Linked DNA regions of Homo sapiens. The protein of the gene in region 5 interacts with the protein of the main gene of each other region in a biochemical or structural test. Each region holds a gene or a part of one and is shown on either strand. Other genes may lie near its edges. The genes, in order: EZH1, ADGRA2, ACOT6, UQCRC2, TJP2, USH1C and SLC26A3.

Region 1 (4,053 bases), on a different chromosome or scaffold from region 5:
AGAATCGCTTGAACCCAGGAGGCAGAGATTGCAGTGAGCCGAGATTGCACCATTGCACTCCAGCCTAGGCAACAAGAGTGAAACTGTCTCAAAACAAACAAACAAACAACACGCACAAAAAATCAGCTTATGCGTGTTCGTCAAGAATACCACAGAAGTGATTTTGTGCGCTTCTCATTGCATCATGTTCAGAGGGACCTGGTAAGAATACCTCTCAGCTGGGGGCAATGGCTCATGCCTGTAATCCCAACACTTTGGGAAATCAAGGTGGGAGGATGGCTTGAACCCTGGAGTTCAAGACCAGCCTAGGCAACACAGCAAGACCCTGTCTCCTTAAAAAGAAGAGGGAGGCCGGGCGTGGTGGCTCATGCCGGTAATCTCAGCACTTTGGGAGGCCGAGGTAGGCAGATCACTTGAGGTCAGGAGTTTGACAGCAGCCTGGCCAATACGGTGAAACCCCATCTCTACTAAAAATACAAAAATTAGCCGGGCGTGGTGGCACGAACCTGTATTCCTGGCTACTTGGGAGGCTGAGGCGGGAGAATTGCTTGAGCCCGGGAGGGAGAGGTTGCAGTGAGCCGAGATCGCGCCACGGCACTCCAGCCTGTGTAAGTAACAAAGCGAGACTCCGTCCAGCCTCGCCCCCCGGCAAAAAAAGAAGAAGAAAACAATACCTCTTATCACTAGTGATGCTAACTTTGATCACTTAGTTAAGGTGGTGTCTGACAGATTCTTATCTGTAAAGTTGCTATTTTTTTCCCTTTGTAACTAGCAGGTGTCTTGTGGGGATTTATTTCGATACAAGGCTATAATTTTGATTCTAAGTGACTAGAAAACTATGAACAGAAATAGGGAGATCAGACATAAATAAAGGGCTTAGAACCCATAGACCGGTGTCTGGAGAACTGGTAGGGGTGAAGCATCGGTATGAAGGTGATCTGGGTTGGCTTCAAACGCTGAAGTGAGATGTGGCTTGTCACCAGCGCGTGGGGATGGCAAATCCGCTGAATAGGGTCTTCAGGAAGATATTAGTGGCTCTGCGAAGGTTTCCCCAGAGCCCTTCCCCTCCCCTGCCAGCGCCGCTTTGGAAGCCGTCTGGGAGGCTGCACCCGCCAGGACTCCTGAGTGCGGGGTTTTGGCGGCAAATGACAGTAGTGCGTCCGCGCGGCACGGGTAAGTCAATGCGCACGCGCCGACAGGAGGCGCGGGGCGGGGCACGGCGCAGGGGTGGGGCCGCGGCGCGCATGCGTCCTAGCAGCGGGACCCGCGGCTCGGGATGGAGGGTGAGTGAGTAAACAAGCCTGGGCCGGGCGGTGGGGCCGGGCCTCCTCCCCTCGCCGCCCTGGGCCTGAGGGAGGGAGAGGCGGAGGGATCAGGAAATTGGAAGGAATCCGAGGGACACACTGCCTGCCTGGCCGGGGGTAGCAGGCGCCCCTCCTCATTCCGAGGGTGGGGGAATGGGGGCGACGGGGCGAGAGAGACCCAGGCGAGGACAGCGTCTGGGGCTGCGAGGGCTGTGTGCCCGGGAGGAGGAGCGGCGGGGGCGGGCTCGGGGACGGGGAATCCCGTTGGATGGCGGTGTGGGCCGGTGGGCGGGAGCCCCAGCGCCCAAAGGGCGCGGGAGGGCGGTGGCACCTGCGGGGGCCTTTAGCGAGGTGGACTCTGGGGACCTGGAGCTGTGCTTGGGGAGGGCTAGAGACCGGGGCTGATCTTGCGATGGCTTTCGGGGATGTTGAGGAGGGGTAGCAGTAAAAACAAGGCCGGGACTAGGGTGAGGTGAGTAAGGCTCCCAAGGCACAAAGTGTAAAGGAGCACTGACTCAGGGTCGCGCAAGTGCAGTGAGCGCCTCCTCACGTGCGTCCTGGGTGCCTCGGTCGCCTCACCCCAGGCCTGGCCCTGAGCAAGAATCTCCTTCACTCCAGACTTTTGGTCTCACGCCAATGATCGCTCACCCCCACCATTCAACCGAGGATCAAATGATATAAATAAAAGTGCCTTGAAGCACAGACAAGGTGTTGTATTTGGGACATGCCTGTTAGGAAATGTGGGACAAACTTTTATTTCAATAAAAAGTGACTACTGAGGAATTGTTTCTTGAGCAGGGAAGGGAAGGGATACCTGAAGGATGTTAGTGCCCCCCGTGGAATGTGAAGGAATATGGAGGGTGAAATACAGGGTTGTATGTGATGTAGCCCAGGCCGATAGGAACCTGACGCTTGGCAGGGGAGGATGAAAGCAAAGGAGCTCAGGTACACTAACAATTAGGTGGGTGCAAGGATGGCAATGAAAACGCGAGTCTCCTCCACGTTTGCTGCCATACTGCCGCTGAATAAAAAAATTCCCACACCCCATGTTTTTTAAATTTAGGAAACTGATATTGAAGGAGGTTTCCAGCCTGAGAAGGTGCTAACCCTATTAGAGGTTTCTGTGAAAGCTTGTCTATTTTAAGTCTTGGAATCCCCAGATATGCCACTGATAAAAGAGATTACTTACATAGGAGAGAGTGTGTGTTAGGAGATAAGTACTTTAGACTGGGCTCGGTGGCTCATATCTGAAATCCCAGCATTCGGGAGGCCCAGGCAGGAGAATAGCTTGAGCCCAGGAGTTTGGGACCAGCTCAGGCAACAATAGCGAGACCTCATCTCTACAAAAAAAAAATAGCCAGATGTGGTGGCCTTCTCCTATAGTCCCAGCTGCTTGGGAGGCTGAAGCAGGAGTATTGCTTGAGACTGGGAGGTCAAGGTTGCAATGAGCTCTGATCCTGCCACTGCACTCCAGTCTGGGTGACAGCACCTGAGACCCTGTCTCAAGAAAAAAAAAAAAAGCCTGGCACGGTGGCTCATGCCTGTAATCCCAACACTTTGGGAGGCTGAGGTGGACCGTTCACTCGAGCCCAGGAGTTTGAGACCAGCCTGGGCAACATGGGACAACTCCATCTCTACTAAAAATACAAAAATTAATCAGGTGTGGTGGCACACGCCTGTAGTCCCAGCTACTCGGGAGGGCTGAGGCATTAGAATCGCTTGAACCGGGAGGTGGAGGTTGCAGTGAGCCGAGATTGCACCACTGCACATCAACCTGGGCAACAGAGTGAGATTCTGTCAAAAAAAAAAAAAAAAAAAGGAGGCCTGGCACAGTGGCTCAGGCCTGTAATCCCAGCACTTTGGGAGGCCAAGGCAGGCGGATCACTTGAGGTCAAGAGTCCGAGAGCTGCCTGGGCAACATGGCGAAACTCCTTCTCTACAAAAATACAAGAATTAGCTGGGCGTGGTGGTGGGTGCCTGTAATCCCAGCTATTCAGGGGGTTGAGGCACGAGAATCGCTTGAACCTGGGAGGTGGAAGTTGCAGTGAGCCGACATGCACCACTGCATTGCAGCATGGGTGACAGAGCAAGACTCCATCTCAAAAAAGAAAAAAAAAAGGGAGAGAGAAGTACTTAAAAACGCACATACATAATAGGAGAAAGGACTATCTATAAAACTGTAATAATGCTATCATTGTCAAGGTTTATGCTTATTGTTGTGTGTCACAAACATAATGAATCAACTCCAAAGGCAGGGATATATGTTTTATTCATTGATGTACCCCAAACACCTAAAATGGTAACACATAGTAGATACTACTATTAAGTATAATAGTAGGTGCTCAACATATATTTGTGGAATAAATAGTGGGGAAATTTCTGGCACTGGGAGTCAGGTGATCCGGATGCTAGTATTGTCAGTAACTGGCAGAGTACTTGTATGCTAATCGTGGAACTTGATGCTAAGGCCCAGCTTAAAATTCCTTAAAGTGTAAATGACTTCTTCATTATGATGGTTACATTAGTGCCCTTTGAAACAGCACTAGAGGCTGGGCTGATGGCTTACACCTATAAGCCCAGCACTTTGGGAGGCTGAGGCTGTTGGATCACCTGAGGTCGGGGAGTTCAAAACCAGCCTGGCCAATATGGTGAAACCCCATCTCTACTAAAAATACAAAAAATTAGCCAGACGTGGTGGCGGACACCTATAATTCTAGCTCTTGGGAGACAGAGGTGGGAGAATCGCTTG
Region 2 (3,514 bases), on a different chromosome or scaffold from region 5:
CGCACAAGAGCCGGGCCAAGGGACACCGCGCGGGGGAGGCCTGCGGCAAGAACCGGCTCAAGGCCCTGCGCGGGGGCGCGGCGGGGGCGCTGGAGCTGCTGTCCAGCGAGAGCGGCAGTCTGCACAACAGCCCCACCGACAGCTACCTGGGCAGCAGCCGCAACAGCCCGGGCGCCGGCCTGCAGCTGGAAGGCGAGCCCATGCTCACGCCGTCCGAGGGCAGCGACACCAGCGCCGCGCCGCTTTCTGAGGCGGGCCGGGCAGGCCAGCGCCGCAGCGCCAGCCGCGACAGTCTCAAGGGCGGCGGCGCGCTGGAGAAGGAGAGCCATCGCCGCTCGTACCCGCTCAACGCCGCCAGCCTAAACGGCGCCCCCAAGGGGGGCAAGTACGACGACGTCACCCTGATGGGCGCGGAGGTAGCCAGCGGCGGCTGCATGAAGACCGGACTCTGGAAGAGCGAAACTACCGTCTAAGGTGGGGCGGGCGACGCGGTAGACGGGCTGGCCACGCGGCTCGTTCCCCCGCTCCTCGGGGCCCTCCAAGGTGTCTCCGTAGTCAGCAGGTTGGAGGCAGAGGAGCCGATGGCTGGAGGAAGCCCACAGGCGGATGTTCCCCACTTGCCTAGAGGGCATCCCTCTGGGGTAGCGACAGACAATCCCAGAAACACGCATAATACATTTCCGTCCAGCCCGGGGCAGTCTGACTGTCGGTGCCCTCCCAGGAACGGGGAAGGCCTCCGTCTGTGTGAAAGGGCACAGCACATCCCAGGTGCACCCTCCCCAAGTACTCCCACCCCGCCTACTGTCCATGCGGCCTCACTGGGGGCCATCAGCCTCACCAGCAAAGCAGAGATGAGAGCGTGGGAACTGTGTTCTTTCCTCCCTGCCCTCTACTGATTTCAGCCCAGCCCCTGCCTAGATCCTAGGTCCCTTTTCCTCCCGAGTTTGGCTGGCACGAGAGCTAGCCCAGCACATGAAGCAGGTGATGTTAAGTCACAAGGTGCTGCTTTTCAGATCCACTATGCAAGAGGGGAGGGTGGGGCCACGTGAAAGGCAGCTCTAGACATCAACCAGTCCTGGGGGAGGGGAGTGGGAACCGGGCACAACTAGGAACAATGCCACCATTCCCACAGGAGTGGTACTTAAACCAGACAGCAGGGTTCAGAGGTGGCACACCGGGACAAAGCTGAGGCCCTGCACCTCAACAGCTGACTGCCAGGTGCCTGTGGGTGAACTGAGGGGAGTAGAGGGAGAGGGCAGGTGGAACTGGGGCAGAATCTAGTCATGCCCTAAAGCTAGTCCTGTAAACAATGGTGCCCCAGAAAGCTGCAGGTGGTGTTTGGAGAAGCAGTTACTTTTCAGTTACAAGACCCATCTCCCTAGTCTCAGCCTTACAACACCACGGGACTAAGGAAGAGCACTTCCTTGCCTCCGTAAGGCCAGAGGAAGAACCATCCCAATCATTTGATCTCCAGCTCCACAGTAGAGAGAAACCTACAAAATGTCAAACCAGCTTCCCGACTCCCAGGAGCTCAAGCCAAGCCCAGAGGCAGTGGCTGGGGTCCCTGCAGGTCATGAGGGGCCTATGCCTTTACTCCTTTTAAACACCAGCACCCGTCTTTTCCCCAACCTAAAACCAACCACCAGCATTTCACTACAGGACCAAATGGAAACCGAGGGAACCCTGGGTCTTGGGAAGAACAACAGGAAACCAAGGTCTGACCTAGGGTTCCCTCCCAGTCTTCACATCACTCTGGCCTCATCACCAAGGTGACAGAGGACACAGGGGAGGGGGAAAACCCACACACACTCCTTGGAATGGGTCCTGTTATTTATGCTTGCTGCACAGACATATTAGAAGAAAAAAAAAAGCTTTGTATTATTCTTCCACATATGCTGGCTGCTGTTTACACACCCTGCCAATGCCTTAGCACTGGAGAGCTTTTTGCAATATGCTGGGGAAAGGGGAGGGAGGGAATGAAAGTGCCAAAGAAAACATGTTTTTAAGAACTCGGGTTTTATACAATAGAATGTTTTCTAGCAGATGCCTCTTGTTTTAATATATTAAAATTTTGCAAAGCCCTTTGAGCTACTGCCTTAGTCTACCCACTGTCCTTTTGTTATGAGGTAGAGGATCTCATGACACCATACACACAAACCCATCATTGCCTGTGAATGCACGTAGGGCCAGAATTCCCCAGTTCCCGCTCCTCTGAGGGTTGATACTGCTGGGAATGCCAACCACTCCACAAGCAGAGGGAAGCCCCCTCAGGCCTGCAGGAGGAGCCGCAGCAGTGTGTCCAATTCAAACCAGCAGCAAAGAGCCTGACATTTTCCCATCCATCTATGAGGAAAGCCATCTCACAGAACATGGACATAGGCAACTTGCTCTCCCACACCAAGGGATGGGAATCTCTCCTACCTATAGTCATCCCTGCACTCCTGACTTTACTCCAGGACCCAGGGTCCAACTAATGGCAGAGCCCCTCTTGGTTCCTTCAAACAAGAAAAGCAATACCTACGGACTGGTGTACACTTCCATCCTTGGTTATAACAGGAATGTTATCAAGCTGTCAGAACAGGATGAAGTGCTCCCAGTGGATATCCATCAGGGAGGGTTAGGGACACTCGTGGCAGCCTGTCTAGCAGCCTGGGCTCTCTGAAAGTCCCTAACTTCCTGAGGGGTACGCAAATACTGTTCTATTTCACTATCAGAAATGTTCTCATCTCCAGTGACAGTGGAGACAGGGGGTACAGGGCAGATCCGCTTCGGGGACTTCAACATGCAGGGTGGCAAGAGAAGGGCAGGACTGGCCGGCCGCTTCCCCTGGGGTAAACCTAAGGAATTATTTCCCACCTCCCCTTCTCCTTGCCCCTGTCCCCACCCCGGTGGCTCCTTCTCTCGGGTCTCCACTTCTGCTGTCCCATCCCGAAAGGCAGAGCGGACCAGTGACTGGCGGTGCTGGAGAAGGTCACCGATGTGCTTCACCACAGACCGTTTGTCAAGTCTCAGAACTCGTAACCAGGCCAGCTGCTCAGCCATCCGCAGCAGCACAGCCAGCAGCTCCTGCAGGCGGGAGGACGCCGGGTAGGGCAGGTCCACATTTGCCAATTTACAAAATCGGGCAAGGGAACATGAAAGCCGATCTGCAGGCTGCAGCGACTGCCAAGCCAGGAAAGTCGCAGCAGTGATGACGGGCAAGGGATGCCTCCCGGTCACCAGCCACGTCTCATTTGCCAGCTCCACCAACTGCATTGTTCGAGACAGCATCTTCTCTTTGTCTTCCACGTATTTGGCTGGCACAGAAGGTGAAGCTTGGAACAGTTTGAAGCTGAAATAACCAAAATGAGGGTTGGATCTTAATGATATAGGGGCTGCTCTCCCACAGTGAGGAAAGACAGCCCACTCAAGATGGGGAAGCTATTCTGCCCTCAGGAATACTCAAGCTCACTGGGCAGCAAGTTAATAAAGGTAGTGAGAGAAAACAGGGCGTCTTCCGCTTGTTAGGGGAAGG
Region 3 (2,436 bases), on a different chromosome or scaffold from region 5:
GGTCAGGAGTTTGAGACCAGCCTCACCAACATGGTGAAACCCCATCTCTACTAAAAATACAAAATTAGCCAGGTGTGGTGGCACATGCCTGTAATACCAACTACTCGGGAGGCTGAGGCAGGAGAATCGCTTGAACCCGGGGGGAGACGGAGGTTGCAGTGAGCCGAGATCGCACCATTGCACTGCAGCCTGGGCAACAAGAGTGAAACCTTGTCTCAACAAACAAACAAACAAACAAACAAACAAACAAACAGGCTGAGTGCAGTGGCTCGCACTTAAAATCCCAGCACTTGAAGAGGCCGAGGTGGGAGCATTGCAGTGGGAGGATTGCTTGAGGCCAGGAGTTTGAGACTAGCCCAGGCAGCATAGTGAGACCCTATTTCTATAAAAAGTTAAAAATTAGCCAAGCATAGGGGCCTAGCTACTTGGGAGGGTGGCTTCTTGAGGCTGGAGGGTCACTTGAGCCCAAGGATTCAAGGTTACAGTGATCTACAGGCTACAGTGCAGTGGTGTGATCACAGGTCACCACAAACTGGAACTCTTGGGCTCAGATGATCCTCCCGCCTCTTCCTCCTGAGTAGCTAAGACTATAGGCAAGTGCCATCATGCCCAGCTAGTTTTTTAAACTTTTTTGTAGAGATGGGTCTTGTTATGTTGCCCAGGCTGGTCGTGAATTCCTGGCCTCAAGTGGTCCTCTTATCTTGACCTCCCAAAGCACTGGGATTATAGGCATGAACCACCACACCTGGCCTCATTATGTTATTTCTAACTTGGTTTATTTTTGTTTGTGAAAATAATATTATTATTATTATTATTTTTGAGATAGAGTCTCACTCTGTCACCCAGGCTGGAGTGCAGTGGTGTGACAATAATTTATATCATTAAAAAGTTTTAGGCCGGTTGCGGTGGCTCACACCTGTAATCGCAGCACTTTGGGAGGCCAAGGTGGGCAGATCACCTGAGGTCAGGAGTTCAAGACCAGCCTGGCCAACATGGCAAAACCCAGTCTCTACTAAAAATACAAAAAAAATTAGCCGGGTGTCTGTTGCATGTCTGTAATTCCAGATACTTGGGGGGCTGAGGCAGGAGAATTGCTTGAACCCAGGGGGCAGAGGTTGCAGTGAGCTGAGATTGCACCACTGCACTTCAGCCTGGGCGACAGAGTGAGACTGTCAAAAAAAAATTTTTTTTTTAATTTCAATACCTTTTGGTGTACAGGTGGTTTGGGGTTACACGGATGAACTGTACAGTGATGAACGCTGAGATTTTAGTGCACCTGTCGCCTGAGTAGTATACATTGTACCCAATATGTAGTTTTTTATCCCTCTATATTATCATTATTGTTTGAGAAAATAAGACATTTTGTTCTTTCTCTGCCAATCTCTCTACCCCCAATCTCCTTGGCTTCAAAAACTTGTTTGCTTACTGTCTTTTGAGAAACTAAAGCTCCCTGTGATTTGTGATGTTCTCCAGGCAGGGGGCCCTTTCCTGGGATCATTGATCTGTTTGGGAGCAGCAGGGGCCTTTGTGAATACAGGGCCAGCCTCCTGGCCGGACATGGTTTTGCTGTGCTTGCCCTGGCTTATTTCAGATTTGAAGACCTCCCCGAAGATCTGAATGATGTACATCTGGAGTACTTTGAAGAAGCCGTGGACTTTATGCTGCAGCATCCAAAGGTGCGTTCTGGTGATCACCTGAGTGCAGAAGAGAGGGGATAGAGCTGATGCAGGGCTGAATCCAAAAGCCCTGCCAGAACACTGAGAACTAGAAACATGCCAGGAGATACCAAGTCTCCTTCAAAGGTTACTAGGGTGGAAGCTGGGCATGGTGATGTGCACCTGTAGTCCCAGCTACCTGGGAGGCTGAGGCCGGGGGATTGCTTGACCCCAGGAGTTCAAGACCAGCCTGGGCAACATTTAGTGAGACCCCTGTCTCAAAAAAAGTTTTTGTACTAGGATTATTATTTCCATTTTCTCCCATCTCTCTCTAATCCCTGAAGACTTGACTATTTAGTTGTCTTTGTAATTGTGGACCAAAATTCAAAGAGCACAGGACTAAAAAAAGTTCCAGCTCTGCATCTACCACAGAGTGGCCTTATGATTCTGAATAAGGCAGTTACTCTCTCTGGAGTTCAATTTTCCTCCTTAATAAGATTAATGTAAATGTATATAGAGAAAATGACTATAAAGAGATATTTTTTGAGACAACTGGAGACATTTGAATGAGAATGGTGTATTTGATTATATGAAGTAATCATTAATTTTGTTGGGTATGATAATGGTATTATGGTTTTGTAAAGAAAGTCCTTATCTGATAACAGAAATAATTAATTAATTAAAACATTTTGGCCAGGTGCGGTGGCTCACGTCTGTAATCCCAGTACTTTGGGAGGCCAAGGCGGGCAGATCACCTGAGGTCAGGAGTTTGAGACCAGCC
Region 4 (3,500 bases), on a different chromosome or scaffold from region 5:
TTTTTAAGAGACAGGGTCTTGCTCTGTTGCCCAGGCTAGTGTGCAATGGCGTGATCTTAGTTCACTGCAGCCTCAAACTCGTGGGCTCAAGCAATCCCCCCTCTTCAGCCTCCTGAGTAGCTGAGGCTACAGGCACACACTACCACACCTGGCTAGTTTTAAATATCTTTTTGTAAAGACAGTGTCTTGCCACATTACCCAGGCTGGTTGAACTCCTGGCCTCAAGTGATCCTCCTGCCCCAGCCTCCCAAAGTCCTGGGATTACAGGTATGAGCAACTGCGCCTAGTCAAATGTATTATTTAAACATACACACATACACACACTCTAACATGGAGTCTTTCGTTATGTTTATAACTCTTAACTTAGTTGGGAATCTACACCAAGAAAGTAATACGAAACACAAAAATATTTTAAGCCCAAAGATATCTTTATAACTGCAGAAAATGCACAAGTGTATTTTGACACACCAATGAATATTGTTTAAATTTTTAGTAATTTGAATCAATGGAAACAGAATCATTGCTAGGGAAATCAGAGATCATTTTTGTCTTTTATTTGTAATTTTCAAACTTCTATAATAAGGATGCTATTTAAATAAGATAAAAAAGTATACAGATGGTCCCTAACTTAACTTATGATGGTTTGACTTATGTTTGTTTGGCTGGATGACTGGGTTATTAGGGTATTAAATGCATTTTCGATATGCGCATTTCTCAGGACGTAACCCCAGTGTAAGTCAAGCAGCATCTATATATACAATATTAACAATTATGTTTAAAAATGCATGATCAATAAACTAAGAAAAATGTTAACAATTATTCTCTAATTTTGGTGGAGACGAGGTCTTGCTATGTTGCCCAAGCTGGTCTCAAACTCCTGGTCTCAAATGAACCACCTGCCTTGGCCTCCCAAAGTGCTGGGATTAGTGAGCCACTGTGCCTGGCCAAAATGTTAACAATTATATCTTTAGGTGGTAGGATATGGGTATGTTTCCCTTTTTACGCTTTTCTGTACTTCTCAGTCCTTATGAGCATAGATTGTAATATTGTTATAATCTGAAAAGAATACAACTTTCAAATAACAAAAACATAAAACACAGTTAATACTGAGACTTACTTGGCAGCTTGGACATCTGTGTTGGAAAGGTTTCCTTGAGCTATTGTTTTTACTTGATTATAGGCAGCCTTGATAACCTAGGACAGATAAGAAAAGTTGGTCATCTGTGGTCAGTACCAGAGTCTCCTGCAGCACTGACACACTTCTTTACTGAGGCAAAAACACAGATGGAAGGTTAGTTCCAGACAAACAGCACAGTGTCCATGCGGAATGCTGTCATCACTATGGGTTCCTTATTCTTCCTATGTTCATAAAGCAGCTGTTTATACACAATCCTCCTGCCCCAGCCTCCCAAGAAGCTGGGACTACAGGTGCATGCTACCAGGCCTGGCTAATTTTTTAGCTTTTTTTGTAGAGATGTGTGGGCTCAAGTGATCCTCCCACCTTAACCTCCCAAAGTGTTGGGATTATAGGTGTGAGCCACCACACCCGGCCAAACACATGGATTTCTAATCACCCATAAAGAATAAGCACCTTTAAAACTTCCCCAGACTCTTGCAGTGTCATGCCATTAATACTGCTATCTCTTACTATTCACTAAGAAGAGAGTAGTAATCCATACACAGCCAATTTGTAAGGCTTGTCCATACTTTGTAAGCCAGGGTCAAGAAGGAATCTGAATCCTTGTATGGTATTTAAAAAAAGAAAGAAAGAATAAAGTTCCGGGGATGTGGGTACTTGGTAAATATTTGTTGAATAAATAAATAAATCTGACCATGATTTTCTCCATCCCAGTGCTGGCTGGGTCTGCTACTTATTTTTCCCTCTGATCACCTAAATTCTAGGACCTCTGTTTCCCCTTCATTTTAGCTGCCCATTTTCAGAGCCACACCCCAGACCTGATCATAGCCTAAATTTGCATACCTCTGAAGCCCTCAATTCTAAGACCCCGACCTCAGTCTTTAATCTCACTATCCTTATTCTTCCACTTTATCAAGATCTCTAGTTCCTTGACTTGTCCAGTCTTTCAATTTATCAGGCCCCCTCTGGCTTCACTTCTCTATTGAGCCTAGATCCCTGAATCATCCTTTTAATCACTCTTGCCAATGCTCCCAACTCCCTTGCTATCTCCTCATACTTCTCACCTGCCCACTTTGCAGGATTCCAACCTGGGATTAACCCTAATACCTACCTCCTCCATTTCTCTATTAGGCTTCTGAATGCAACTGAAGAAAAATTACATGACAGTGCTGACTGACTGTACTATGAATTTGTGGTCGCTGATTTCAAGGATACATCTACACTACAGCGAATACCCACTTTTTGTGTACCTCACTATTTGTCTGTCCCAAACTTCACTACTTTCTTTAAACTTTCCTCTCACGTCTGTCAAAACATGACTTAGCCTCCTGTCTCACTGAGGAGGTACTTCCCCATCTTCCCAATATCTTCCAATATTAGCCTGTCTGTAAGGCTAAAAGGTCCACTTGTGTGCTGGATCCCAAGTATTCCTTTCTCAGACTTGAGCCATTTATAATTTTCTATCTCCGATATCTGCTCCGATCTTTTTGCTCAGTATGTCTCTTTCAACCTAATCTCTCAGTGTAAACTCTCCTAAAACAACTTGCTCCTTGAATGTCTAAGCTCCACTAGCCCACACCAACCTCTCATTTCTTACTTGTCATTCATTCCTTAATCACTACACATTTTACCCAATTTCCACTACTCTAGTCAAAACTGTTAAGATCACCCATGATGTCCTAGCTTGCTGAAACTACCAGACTTCTCAGTGGTAATGAATGTTATTTCACTGTGGGTCAAAATGGTGTTAAACATACTCTCTTTCCTATCCTTCAAATATATCAGCTTCTCTTTTTCTTTCTGTTTACCTGGGCCATTTTTCTTAGCCACTTGCTCCTTAAATGGTGTTGTTTCCCAGAAATTGAGCTTTAGTTTTCTTTTCCTACAATCATTCACACATATCCCTGATTTCAACACAATCTCTACACTGAAGACTTGCAAATAAACCTCCTGGTCTTCCCCTCTCCTGGGTTCTCAATTTAGATGTCTCAGAGCCAACTCAATGCAACTTGTCCAACCAGAACCAAAACATGAAGGAGGCAATTCTCTCCTCTTTCCTGGAAGCATTAGTATACATGTGTAAATTTCCCTATAGCAGATAATGCTTCAATGACATCATACTATACAGAGCTCTGATAAGTCATTGCACTGCATTCAAACATTCCATATTTTAACCGAAAACATGTTTATGGCGGGGGGGAGAAATAACTTGTTCATGAAAGAAGTTTGGTGAGTTTGCAACTTACATCTCCAGCAGCTGTGGCCTGGGAGATAGTATAAATCCCAAAGAGTCCAGAATCTGAGTAACTGGCATTAAATGCAGAAACCTGAAAGATAATGAGACTTTACTGTATGATATTCT
Region 5 (3,500 bases):
TAACTATTTTTCAAGGAGTCATGAACACAATTTCAAATTCTCCATTCAGATTAATTAATTATTTCTTCTACTCTTCAATTCTTTATTTCTCATTTTTTAGCAAAGGGACTACATTTACATTTCACTTACCTGTAAAAAGGTGTGCACACGTTTTTTTAAGCTTGTTGGCTTGATCAAATAACTTTCGAGAACTTTTGTTGGACGTTGGATTTAACCTTTGTCTCATGGTTTTGACACCTTGTCTGGAGTCTGGGTTGAAAAAAATCACAATTGGGAACCACTGGGTGTAATTCAACAGGTCCACAGCTTTCGGAGTCACATCCAGTAGTGCATGCTTATCCTGTTTACAAAAGGGGAAAAGTTAGAGAAATGGATATATAAAGTAATATAGCATCAAATACTTTGTTTTAATAAGTAAAGGCTGTATGAGATATATCTTGTTTGTTTGTTTGTTTACTTATTTGGGATAGATTCTTGCTCTGTTGCCCAGGCTGGAGTGCAGTGGCACAAACTTGGCTCACTGCGACCTCCGCCTCCCGGGTTCAAGCAATTATCCTGTCTCAGCCTCCTGAGTAGCTGGGATTACAGGTGCCCGCCACCACCATGGCCAGCTAATTTTTGTATTTTTAGTAGAGACAGGGTTTCACCATGTTGGCCAGGCTGGTCCCAAACTCCTGACTTCAGGTGATCCGCCCGCCTCTGCCTCCCAAAGTGCTGGGATTACAGGCATGAGCCACCTATCTTGTAAATTTAAATCAAGAAGCAGAACACATTTCCTTCTACCTAATGCCCACTTCAATATTACCAATGTGTTAGAACTTCTGATAAAATGAATTAACACATTATTTGGTATAATGCTGGGAACTCTGGAAAAAAAAACAGTATGTTACTGCCAGAGAACAGTAACAGTGACTGGTTTCCACACAGTGAAATGGTTTGCATTTACATTATATATATATTTTTTTGAGATGGAGTTTCACTCTTGTCGCCCAGGCTGGAGTGCAATGGTGCAATCTCCGCTCACTGCCAACAGTGACTGGTTTCCACACAGTGAAACGGTTTGCATTTACATTATATATATATTTTTTTGAGATGGAGTTTCACTCGTCGCCCAGGCTGGAGTGCAATGGTGCAATCTCCGCTCACTGCAAACTCCGCCTCCTGAGTTCAAGCGATTCTCCTGCCTCAGCCTCCTGAGTGGCTGGGACTACAGGTACCTGCCACTGTGCCCGGCTAATTTTTTATATTTTTAGTAGAGACAGGGTTTCACCATGTTGGCCAGGCTGGTCTCGAACTCCTGACCTCAGGTGATCCACCCGCCTCAGCCTCTCAAAGTGTTGGGATTACAGGTGTAAGCCACTGTGCCCGGCCAATTTTTTATTATTAACATTTAATGATTAAAAGTACAGATACTATCCTAAAAGTGACTGCAGCAAACCATAATCTAATTCTTTCTGAAAACACGGTCTGTGGATGAATTTTCTCACCTGTTCAATAATTTGCCTCACGGTATTTAACCGGACCACTCCAGTGGATTTCTCAGATCCTGCATCTTTTGGTTCCGTTTCTGCAAAAGCAAAAACAGGAAGCTAAATAATTGTTTAGAAAACAGTGACAACCAAATACTCCCACCTAGCATCAAGCAATGATGGCACACCTGACATTAAGTGTCTCCTAACAAGATTCAGTGGGAAGGACCCACATAACCTGCTTAGTGGAAATCTAATCATGAAGAAACGGTTAGGCCAGTCCAACAGGAAGCATTCTAGGAGACAACTAGCTTGGATTCTTCAAAATATCAGTGTAACAAAGTTATTTAGAAAAAAGAGGGGACTGGAAAGACATAAAAATCACAAAAAGACATAAAAATCAAATGTCATGAATGGTCCTTGGTTGTATTCTGAATTTAAAAAAAAGCTATGAAGCACATAACTAGGACAATTAAGAAAACGTGGAAAATGGACTATATACAAAATCACACCACATCAATGTTACCTTTCTTGGCTGTGATAATGGTATTGCAGTTATGTGGGAGAAAGTCCTTGTTCTTAGGAGATTCACACAAGTATTCAGGGATAAAGTGTTATAAATGATTCTGCAGAAATTTTTCAAAGAGTATGTGTATGTGTGTGTGTATGTGTGTCTATGGTGCAGGCAGTGGGTGAGAGAAAATGCGTGACAAAATGTCAGCAACTGGTGATTCCAGGTGAAGGGTACGTGGGTGTTCATGATTCTTCCAACTCCTCTGTTAGAAATTTTTCAAAATAAAAATTTGGGGGAAAAAAAAACACTGACAGACTTACTAGCAGTTTGAAACCAGTCAGGTAACTCATTAGCCAATTTTTCCATTGCTATATCAGCTATGGGGCCGAATAAGACCACAGGTCTCTTGAAACCAGCTGAAATGACAAGAAAGGCCATTAAAGCATACACACTTGCCTAGCTGTTATGATAAGCAGTAAAAGTATTGTATGGGCTTTTGATAACATAACTAAACGAAAGAAACTGTGGTTTCTCCCCAATTCAGCTTGGCTCTGTTCTGAAGAATATGCCTTCACTATCCTCACCATTTAAAACAATTTTTTTCTTTTCATTCAACCACATGCTAACCTAGATTTTTTTTTAAGAGACAAGATCTCACTATGTTGCCCAGACTAAACTCAAACTCCTAGGCTCAAGCCTCCTGAGTAGCTGGGACTACACTGCCTAGCTCCTCACCATTTTTAAACACAAACTTTCCCATTGATAATATATGGAAACTTTTTTTATTTTTTGCAGAGATGAGGTCTTACTATATTGCCCAGGCTAGTCTTGAACTTCTGAGCTCAAGTGATCCTCCCACCTTGGCCTCCCAAAGTGCTACGATTATAGGCATAAGGTACAGTGCCCAGCCAATATACCGAAACTCTTGAACAGTGGTATTAAAACATTTTTTAAGTTGCAGAAATAAGCCTCAATTTAGGAACTGAAACAGCTTTTTATAAATCATGCTCCTTGTTAGAATTTGATTTCAACTCTATAAACTGCCTTTGGCATAACTGACATACATAAGTTAGAACTTGACCATACAGTCTGAAAATAAAGGTGAACAGGCTCAGAGCCCAGTCAGTTCATTTCCAGGCCCCATGTGACTTCCTCACCTTCTCGCAGCAAAACCCTCTCATAAGCTGGGAACTTGGTGCTGACAGACACAACAGCTGTGAGGTCTTCCCGACTTTTCCTCAGGTTCTTCTTCACCCCAGACCTCTGGCCACGCATTCTCCAGAAATCTGCCCGGTCCCCAGCGTTGTCTCTCTGGGCATTTTGAACACTGGCCATTTGTTCAGCTCTGAGAAGAAACCACGGGAAGTAAATCTCTAAAGCCAGAAAACGCAGCTAACATGCATTTCATTAATCAAATCCAGTCAATTTTACTTCTGAGCTCAGAGAAGATTCCGCTTGACAATGAAGAAGTTTCAGAGGGTGGGAAATGTGGGGACCTTCACTTCCAAATGGGAGCA
Region 6 (3,009 bases), on a different chromosome or scaffold from region 5:
ACATTCCCCCTGCTGGGCCCCCGGAGTTATGCCTTCCTGCCTCAAGCCCTTGCATTTCCCATGAGCTTCTGTGGGATGTGCTTCCACGGAGGGAGTGGACCCTGCCATCTTCCTCCCTCACATGCTGTCGTGGTGACCTCAGGAGAAGCATTGGTGGCTGTGTCGTTCTTGAAAGAAGCTGGGCACCCCATATCATGAGGTGACCCTTCGGGGCTCCTGCCTTCAGCTCTGCTTTCTGGAATTGAGCAAAATCCCTGCCACACAGACTTCATCTCCTACCATCTCTGCTGAGAAGACATTGAAGCCCAGCCCAGCCCATCTCCTGCTTTCTCAACCTCTGCTCCAAGCCAGCCCTGGCCATTTGATCACACCCTTCATGTCAGACCCAGATCACAGCACTGGGATCTGTCTATCACCCTTGAATAGGGGCCACAAACCTTATGGTTTTTTGATTTGCAGCCTTGAATCTGCTGCCCAAATCCACACTCACTCCTATAAGCTGGAAAATAAATCTATTTTATTAATGAGCTCAGAGTAAGGTTTGGAGTGACAATCCTGGCAGCAATTAGAGCAGAGGGCAGAGGAGAGGGATGGAGAGAGAGAGACTCCAGTGGGGTCTTATTAGGGTTCAAGGAAGGAGTCCCCCAGAGCTGGGAGAGACCAAATTCACTGGGCCAGAGGAAAGGAATGAGAGTCTGGATCCTTGAGATCTTCTCCCAAATGGCTGGCTGCTCCCTTTCCTCCACGTTGGCCTTCAGAAGAGTGGCCCGAGCTGTTCCTTATCTGGCCCTGGTTCAGGGCCAAAGGGAGTTTGAGATTCCTGGGTGATAGATTCAGGTCCCAAGGATGCCATCTGGTGTGTGTAGTGTGGCCTCTCTCAAGGCTGATCCGAGGCTTTGTGTTCACGAGGTGGGGCCGGAGCTCACTGTTTCCTAACGGTGAATTTGGTTTCCCCTTTTGGACTTCAGAAGAAGGTCCTGCAGGGAAGTGGAAACAGCCCAGGTGGATACAGGCTTTGTGGGTGCACACTCAGCCCAGCCAGAGCAAGGCCCCACAAGGGGGAGTACCCACTCTGGCAGCACAAGGCCCTGCCACCCTTTGGAGACCCCTCTGGGTGCAGGCCCCAAGTGGCTACACACCAGCCACAGCCACAGCACACAGGAGGCCAGGGAGAAAGCGGGAGGGACACCTGGGATGGGGGAAGGAGGAGACTGGGAGGAACAGGGGCAAGAGTCCTTTGCAAAAGGCAAGTAACAGAAAACATAGGGCCATGCAGGCCACCCCAGAAGCCATGGTCTACCCGGCCAAGTGTCTTGGGAGCATGAGGCCCTAATGTTTTGGGAAAGTTGTAACAGAAAAGTCAAGTCCAGGCTTGGGTCTGCCCCAGATGCTGCCATCTGTGGCTTCAGGCCACACCAAACACCAGTTTCACAGCCACCTGCCAGCTCTGTCCACGGGCACATCCCTATCACAGGGTGAGAAACACATCCTACAGCTGGGTTCCACGGTATATCCCACAGATAGAGCCCAGAGCCAAGGAAGGGAGAAGGCAGAGAAGACCGTTTGGTCTAAGCACGGCTCAGGCCATGACAGGGCACAACAGGACATGAGCAACTCTAATCCACCAACCCTGGTTCTTTGGACCAGCCTTCAAAACCTCTTAATAGCCCTGGTTCTGGCCAAGTGTGGGGGCCATGGTGGAGCAAGAGCTCCCAGGAGGTTGGCATTCACAGGAAGGGGAATTTTCACATTCTGTTGAGGACATCTCTTGGGGGCAATTCCAGCCAGGCTTCCTGTGGGCTCCTTCAGCCCCACATGCCTGGTTCGAGGCATTGTCTGTGTCCCTCAGAGAATGTTGCCCAGGGCTTCATCCTGCTCATTTGGGTGCTGCTTGGGACCCAAAGCAGGTCCCAGGGCCGTGATGAGTCAGGACACCTGGGTCCCAAGCAAGTACTACAGACTGGGCTTTGCACCACTTCCCTGAGGGGAGGGCTTTGAGTCTGAGGAATTCCACTGTGGCCAACAGCAGGCCCCAGGCAGCACTTCAGGGATGGCGCCTTGTGTACCCTCCAGACGCCAGTCCAAAGAACCTGCTGACAGCGTGGGCAGCAGATGGCCACTGCAAGCAGCAGGGACACACAGGGCCCTGTGGCCCGCCTGCCTATTCACCGTGGGCTCCAGCTGCAGGAGGAACCCGTGTCTGTGCACGGCAGCACGGTCTTCAAGGAGCTTTCGGACCGGTTGGGGGCTTTCAGCTACGGAGGAGGGAAGAGAAGCTCTATATATACAGAGCAGAGCAAGAAACACAAAACAGGCTTGGTTACTCCCAGGCAGAGCTCCATGGGGCTTCTCCTTTCACTGGGCTCCTGCCTCGGGTTCTGCCTAGCCCCTGGGTTCCAGAATTAGGAGCTGCGAGACCCTGGTTTCTCCAAGACATGTGTAGAGCTCAGATTCTGCTGGGCACGGGGAGCAAGCAGGCCCAGCCACGACAGGGAGGCAGGGCATGGTCAGTGAGTGGGTGAGTGGTGGGTGGGTGAGGGCTGGGGAGGTGATGGGATGAGGTGAGGATGGAGGTGAGACACCACACAGAGGCAGAGAAACAGAGAAAGGCAGACAAAGAGGTAAGAATGGATGCAGAATGACAAGGACAGAGGAACAGGGACTCAGAGACAGGGATGAAGAGAAACAGGAAGAAAGAATAGGAGACAGTGAGAGAGAAAGGGGACCGGGATGAAGGGGAAGGAGGGGGGCAGATAAGATGTTGACAGGAAGGAAGGAAAGGGTGAAAGAAAGACAGAGAGGGAGGAGGAGAGAAGACAGAGAGACCCACAGGACACAAGAGACAGACACACAGGGAATCACAGAGAGAGACAGTCTAGGCCAAAGCTCCCTGGAGATCCCACAGCGTGGGGACAAAAGCCTGTGGTCCCGGCTGCCTAGAGGCACAGTATGAGTGAATGCAGTTAGACATCAGGAAGACCTTCCAGAGAGTGAAGGATGGACACAGAC
Region 7 (3,500 bases), on a different chromosome or scaffold from region 5:
TTTTGAAAAGAGATAATAGTGTCAGAAGATACTAAAGTTAAAAACAAGGCTCTGTGACAGAAATAAACCCAAACAAAAGAACCCTTCTCCTCAGTAAGAAGTTAAAAATGATCATTCTTGAAGGAAGTATTATGGGAAAATGTTCTGTCTCAAACTCATAAGAACAACTCTGATTTAATTTTAAAATAGTGTCTTCTTTGGGATGATCTCAACTAGAGCTTTCTTGCTACATAAAAGTTTTAAAAAAGAACCTATGGACCATGAGTTGCTAATTATTTTTGTCCACAATGAATGGATGTATCTAGCACCAATGAATGTTTATACATTTTTCTGGTCTCTAGGCTAAGAACAAATACCAGTAGTGATATGAGTAAGATCATGTAAAGTAAGAAAAGTAGCTTATATTGTTTGATCAGGTTAGATGATCATTAATGTCATTGCCATCATCAGTAAACACTTTCAGAACCTCTTCTAGGCACTTAACTAAGAATTAGAGCCCCTGTCCTTTGTGTTATACTGCTAGAACCAAAAAATAAATGTGTGTGTGTGTGTGAGTGAAAATGCAGAAACAAAAGCTAAAGTAATCAAAAGCTAAAATAAACAAAAACCAAAACCAAAAAAGAAAAGAAAACGCAAGTAGACTTGAGAGTTACATGATGTTAACATTTAAAAAAAATTCTTCCATTTTCTAATTTTGTATCCAGTTCACCCATGCTGAATAGGTCTTATCTTAGGTCAGCTCTCACTTGGGCAGATTTTTTGTGAAAACCCAAGAAAAAGAGAGAAAGATGTAGAATTTCTTAAATTTTCTTTTTATATGTTTCTGCATTTCTGTTAGAAACTAATTTATTTTAGAAATATGATTAATCTGTGGAAAGAAAACACACTGCAATCTGATTGTTTCAGTCGTGTTTTGAAATCACATGTGACATTTATTCTTTCATATATCTATTTGGGTTTTAGCCAAGTGAAATTTCATCAGCTTATAATGGATGAGGATAAAACAAAAGGATCCACTCTTACATTTTTTCCCAGGACCTTTCCAGATCTTCTCTGATTTCAGAATAATTTAGACACAATGCCCACAAAGATTTGAGAACACCACAGAATTGAAATTTGAAAGGAATGTGAGCATAGTTGTCCACCAGCAGATTCAGCATACGTTAGAACTGTAGATTTGATTCCCTTCAATATAGTACCCAGTCTCATGGAAAAATGCCCTTTCAAGAGTCCACTGAACACCACCTTTCCCTCCATGGAATACTCTAAGATTATCATTTGCTTCTAATTAAATGCATGTTACCTAAAGGAGCATCCTTCCACAAATACAGTTTTTTTTGTTGCTGTTTTTGAGACAGAGTCTCACTGTATTGCTGGAGTGCAGTGGTGCAATTTCGGCTCACTGCAATTGCCACCTCCCAGGTTCAAGCTATTCTCCTGCCTCAGCCTCCCGAGTAGCTGGGATTACAGGTGCACGCCACCACACCCAGCTGATTTTTGTATTTTTAGTAGAGACGGGGCTTCGCCATGTTGGCCAGGCTGGTCTCGAAGTCCTGACCTCAGGTGATCCACCCACCTCGGCCTCCCAAAGTGCTGGGATTACAGGCATGAGCCACTGTGCCCAGCCCACAAATACAATTTTTTTTTTAACCTTTAGTCATTGATTGGTTGTTTCCATTAAGAACAAAGAAATTACCGATTTAAGGCCCCTCACTGAAGAAACATCAAGAAAGGACACTGCTGAAAAGTCAAGAATGAGGCTGTGGAGGCTGATTTTGGGGACCTCAATGTTGAGAGGAAGATCATCATTCCAGTCAATGTGGAAAGGCAGGTCTGTGGTATTGATTGGCTGGTCCAGTACTTCTATCTGATTGTTGTCCAGCTCTTCGTCAGAATCTTTTATGGTGTCAACAGTACATATAAATCCTTTCTGCAGGAGAGGATAACAAGTATGAAAACTGTGACCAAGAAAAACATTGTGTATGTCAGAGATAGCCAGTGAGTTTCAGAAGCACTGATTCTGAGTTGAGCCAAACGATGGGATTGGACTAGGTGTGGTGGCTCATGCCTGTCATCCCAGCACTTTAGGAAACTGAGGTGGGAGGATCACTTGAGCCCAGGAGTTTGAGACCAGCCAGGGCAACATGGTAAGACTCCATCTCTGCAAAAAATAAAAAAGTTAGCCAGGCATGGTGGCACATGTGCTTGTAGTTTCAGCTACTTGGGAGGCTGAGGTGGGAGGGTCGCTTGAGTCTGGGAGGTCAAGGCTGCAATGAGCTGTGATCGCACCACTGCGCTCCAGCCTAGGCCACAGAGCAAGACACTGTCTCAAACAACAACAAGATTGTGGACAATTGTGTTTGGTACTTTTCCCAGGAGAATAAAAATTTTAGGGAGACCCTCAGAAGGATGTCATTTTAAAATATAACACTCATTGACACATGAAATCCCTTGTTTATCTGGCATTTCATTTAAAGGAATGGAACTACACCTTGAATCATCCTTTACTAAGCTTTTAGCTATAATGCATAGAAATGTGGTCAAGGAACTTACTGGTGTCACTTGTAGCAAGCCTTGCTTCTGCAGTTTTCGGATTTTCCTCAAAGCTTTGTTGCGCTTGCGTAGAATTCGAAGTGGACTAAAGCCAACCTGAGAAACCCATTGCTGTGTTACAAGAGTACTGAATATTCTGTTATTTATATAGCATAGTTCTAACAACTTTAACTGGAGTGATTTGAGGGATTGGGACAGATAATAAAAATATTTGTGACAAAATTTAAAAGTGGTTTAAACAATATCAGCCAGAACATTGGGTCAGACCCATGGTCTGCTCCACCTGTATGCAGTTATCAACAGTCAAAAGCTTTTGTATAACACAGTCCAGGATTCATCCATAAATTATCCATGAATGGACATAAACTCTATTTGAATCTGTTTGTGTTTGGAACCTACACAACTCTTAGGGAATTTTATTTTACTTATTTTCTATTTATTGAGTACGAGTTGCACCTACATAAGTATTCTGCTTGTATGTAATTTTTATCTTATTAAAATTTATAATGGTATGTTATTTATTATTGTACAATTTTATTTTATAATTTTAGTATTATATTTGAGGCTAATCTTTGTTTTTTTCAACACTAATGAATTCTTATTGCTGTAATATTTAGTTACAGATAAGTAAGAGAGGAGGATCAAATTATGTAATAAAAAATCCTTGGCCAGGCGTGGTGGCTGAAGCCTCTAATCCTAGCACTTTGGGAGGCCGAGGTGGGAGGATTGCGTGAGGCCACGAGTTCAAGGCCAGCCTGGGCAACAAAGCAAGCCCTCGTCTCTACAAAAGATTTAAAACTTAGCACTTAGCGGGGTGTAGTGGCACATGCCTGGAGTCTCATCTACTTGGGGGGCTGAGGTAGGGGGATTGCTCAAACCCAGGAGTTTGAGGTTGCAGTGAGCTGTGATCATGCCAGCCTGGGTGACAAAGCGAGACCTTGTCTCAA

The links.
Region 1: the proteins of TJP2 (region 5) and EZH1 interact in a test that uses a peptide from one of them, tested with the Homo sapiens proteins (one large-scale study listed by IntAct).
Region 2: the proteins of TJP2 (region 5) and ADGRA2 interact in a test that uses a peptide from one of them, tested with the Homo sapiens proteins (one large-scale study listed by IntAct).
Region 3: the proteins of TJP2 (region 5) and ACOT6 interact in a test that uses a peptide from one of them, tested with the Homo sapiens proteins (one large-scale study listed by IntAct).
Region 4: the proteins of TJP2 (region 5) and UQCRC2 interact in a test that uses a peptide from one of them, tested with the Homo sapiens proteins (one large-scale study listed by IntAct).
Region 6: the proteins of TJP2 (region 5) and USH1C interact in a test that uses a peptide from one of them, tested with the Homo sapiens proteins (one large-scale study listed by IntAct).
Region 7: the proteins of TJP2 (region 5) and SLC26A3 interact in a test that uses a peptide from one of them, tested with the Homo sapiens proteins (one large-scale study listed by IntAct).

What each region holds. Positions count from the first base shown.
Region 1 is NC_000017.11:42,742,241-42,746,293, reverse strand, and holds the start of EZH1 (histone-lysine N-methyltransferase EZH1), read left to right. Parts: upstream 1-1,253; 5' UTR 1,254-1,276; coding exon of another isoform or gene 1,277-1,283; intron 1,284-4,053.
Region 2 is NC_000008.11:37,841,883-37,845,396, forward strand, and holds the end of ADGRA2 (adhesion G protein-coupled receptor A2 precursor), read left to right. Parts: coding exon 1-473; 3' UTR 474-2,607; downstream 2,608-3,514. Other genes in the region: BRF2 (transcription factor IIIB 50 kDa subunit), read right to left, coding at 2,608-3,331.
Region 3 is NC_000014.9:73,615,517-73,617,952, forward strand, and holds part of ACOT6 (acyl-coenzyme A thioesterase 6), read left to right. Parts: intron 1-1,327; exon of another isoform or gene 1,328-1,477; coding exon 1,478-1,676; intron 1,677-2,436. UniProt on the Homo sapiens protein: Catalyzes the hydrolysis of acyl-CoAs into free fatty acids and coenzyme A (CoASH), regulating their respective intracellular levels.
Region 4 is NC_000016.10:21,973,861-21,977,360, reverse strand, and holds part of UQCRC2 (cytochrome b-c1 complex subunit 2, mitochondrial precursor), read right to left. Parts: intron 3,466-3,500; coding exon 3,385-3,465; intron 1,195-3,384; coding exon 1,118-1,194; intron 1-1,117. UniProt on the Homo sapiens protein: Component of the ubiquinol-cytochrome c oxidoreductase, a multisubunit transmembrane complex that is part of the mitochondrial electron transport chain which drives oxidative phosphorylation.
Region 5 is NC_000009.12:69,236,777-69,240,276, reverse strand, and holds part of TJP2 (tight junction protein 2), read right to left. Parts: intron 3,329-3,500; coding exon 3,141-3,328; intron 2,400-3,140; coding exon 2,304-2,399; intron 1,568-2,303; coding exon 1,488-1,567; intron 341-1,487; coding exon 130-340; intron 1-129. UniProt on the Homo sapiens protein: Plays a role in tight junctions and adherens junctions. Acts as a positive regulator of RANKL-induced osteoclast differentiation, potentially via mediating downstream transcriptional activity.
Region 6 is NC_000011.10:17,493,400-17,496,408, forward strand, and holds the end of USH1C (harmonin), read right to left. Parts: intron 2,279-3,009; coding exon 2,170-2,278; coding exon of another isoform or gene 1,954-2,169; exon of another isoform or gene 1,014-1,953; intron 978-1,013; coding exon 933-977; 3' UTR 501-932; downstream 1-500. UniProt on the Homo sapiens protein: Anchoring/scaffolding protein that is a part of the functional network formed by USH1C, USH1G, CDH23 and MYO7A that mediates mechanotransduction in cochlear hair cells. Required for normal development and maintenance of cochlear hair cell bundles.
Region 7 is NC_000007.14:107,772,224-107,775,723, forward strand, and holds part of SLC26A3 (chloride anion exchanger), read right to left. Parts: intron 2,650-3,500; coding exon 2,554-2,649; intron 1,931-2,553; coding exon 1,697-1,930; intron 1-1,696. UniProt on the Homo sapiens protein: Mediates chloride-bicarbonate exchange with a chloride bicarbonate stoichiometry of 2:1 in the intestinal epithelia. Plays a role in the chloride and bicarbonate homeostasis during sperm epididymal maturation and capacitation.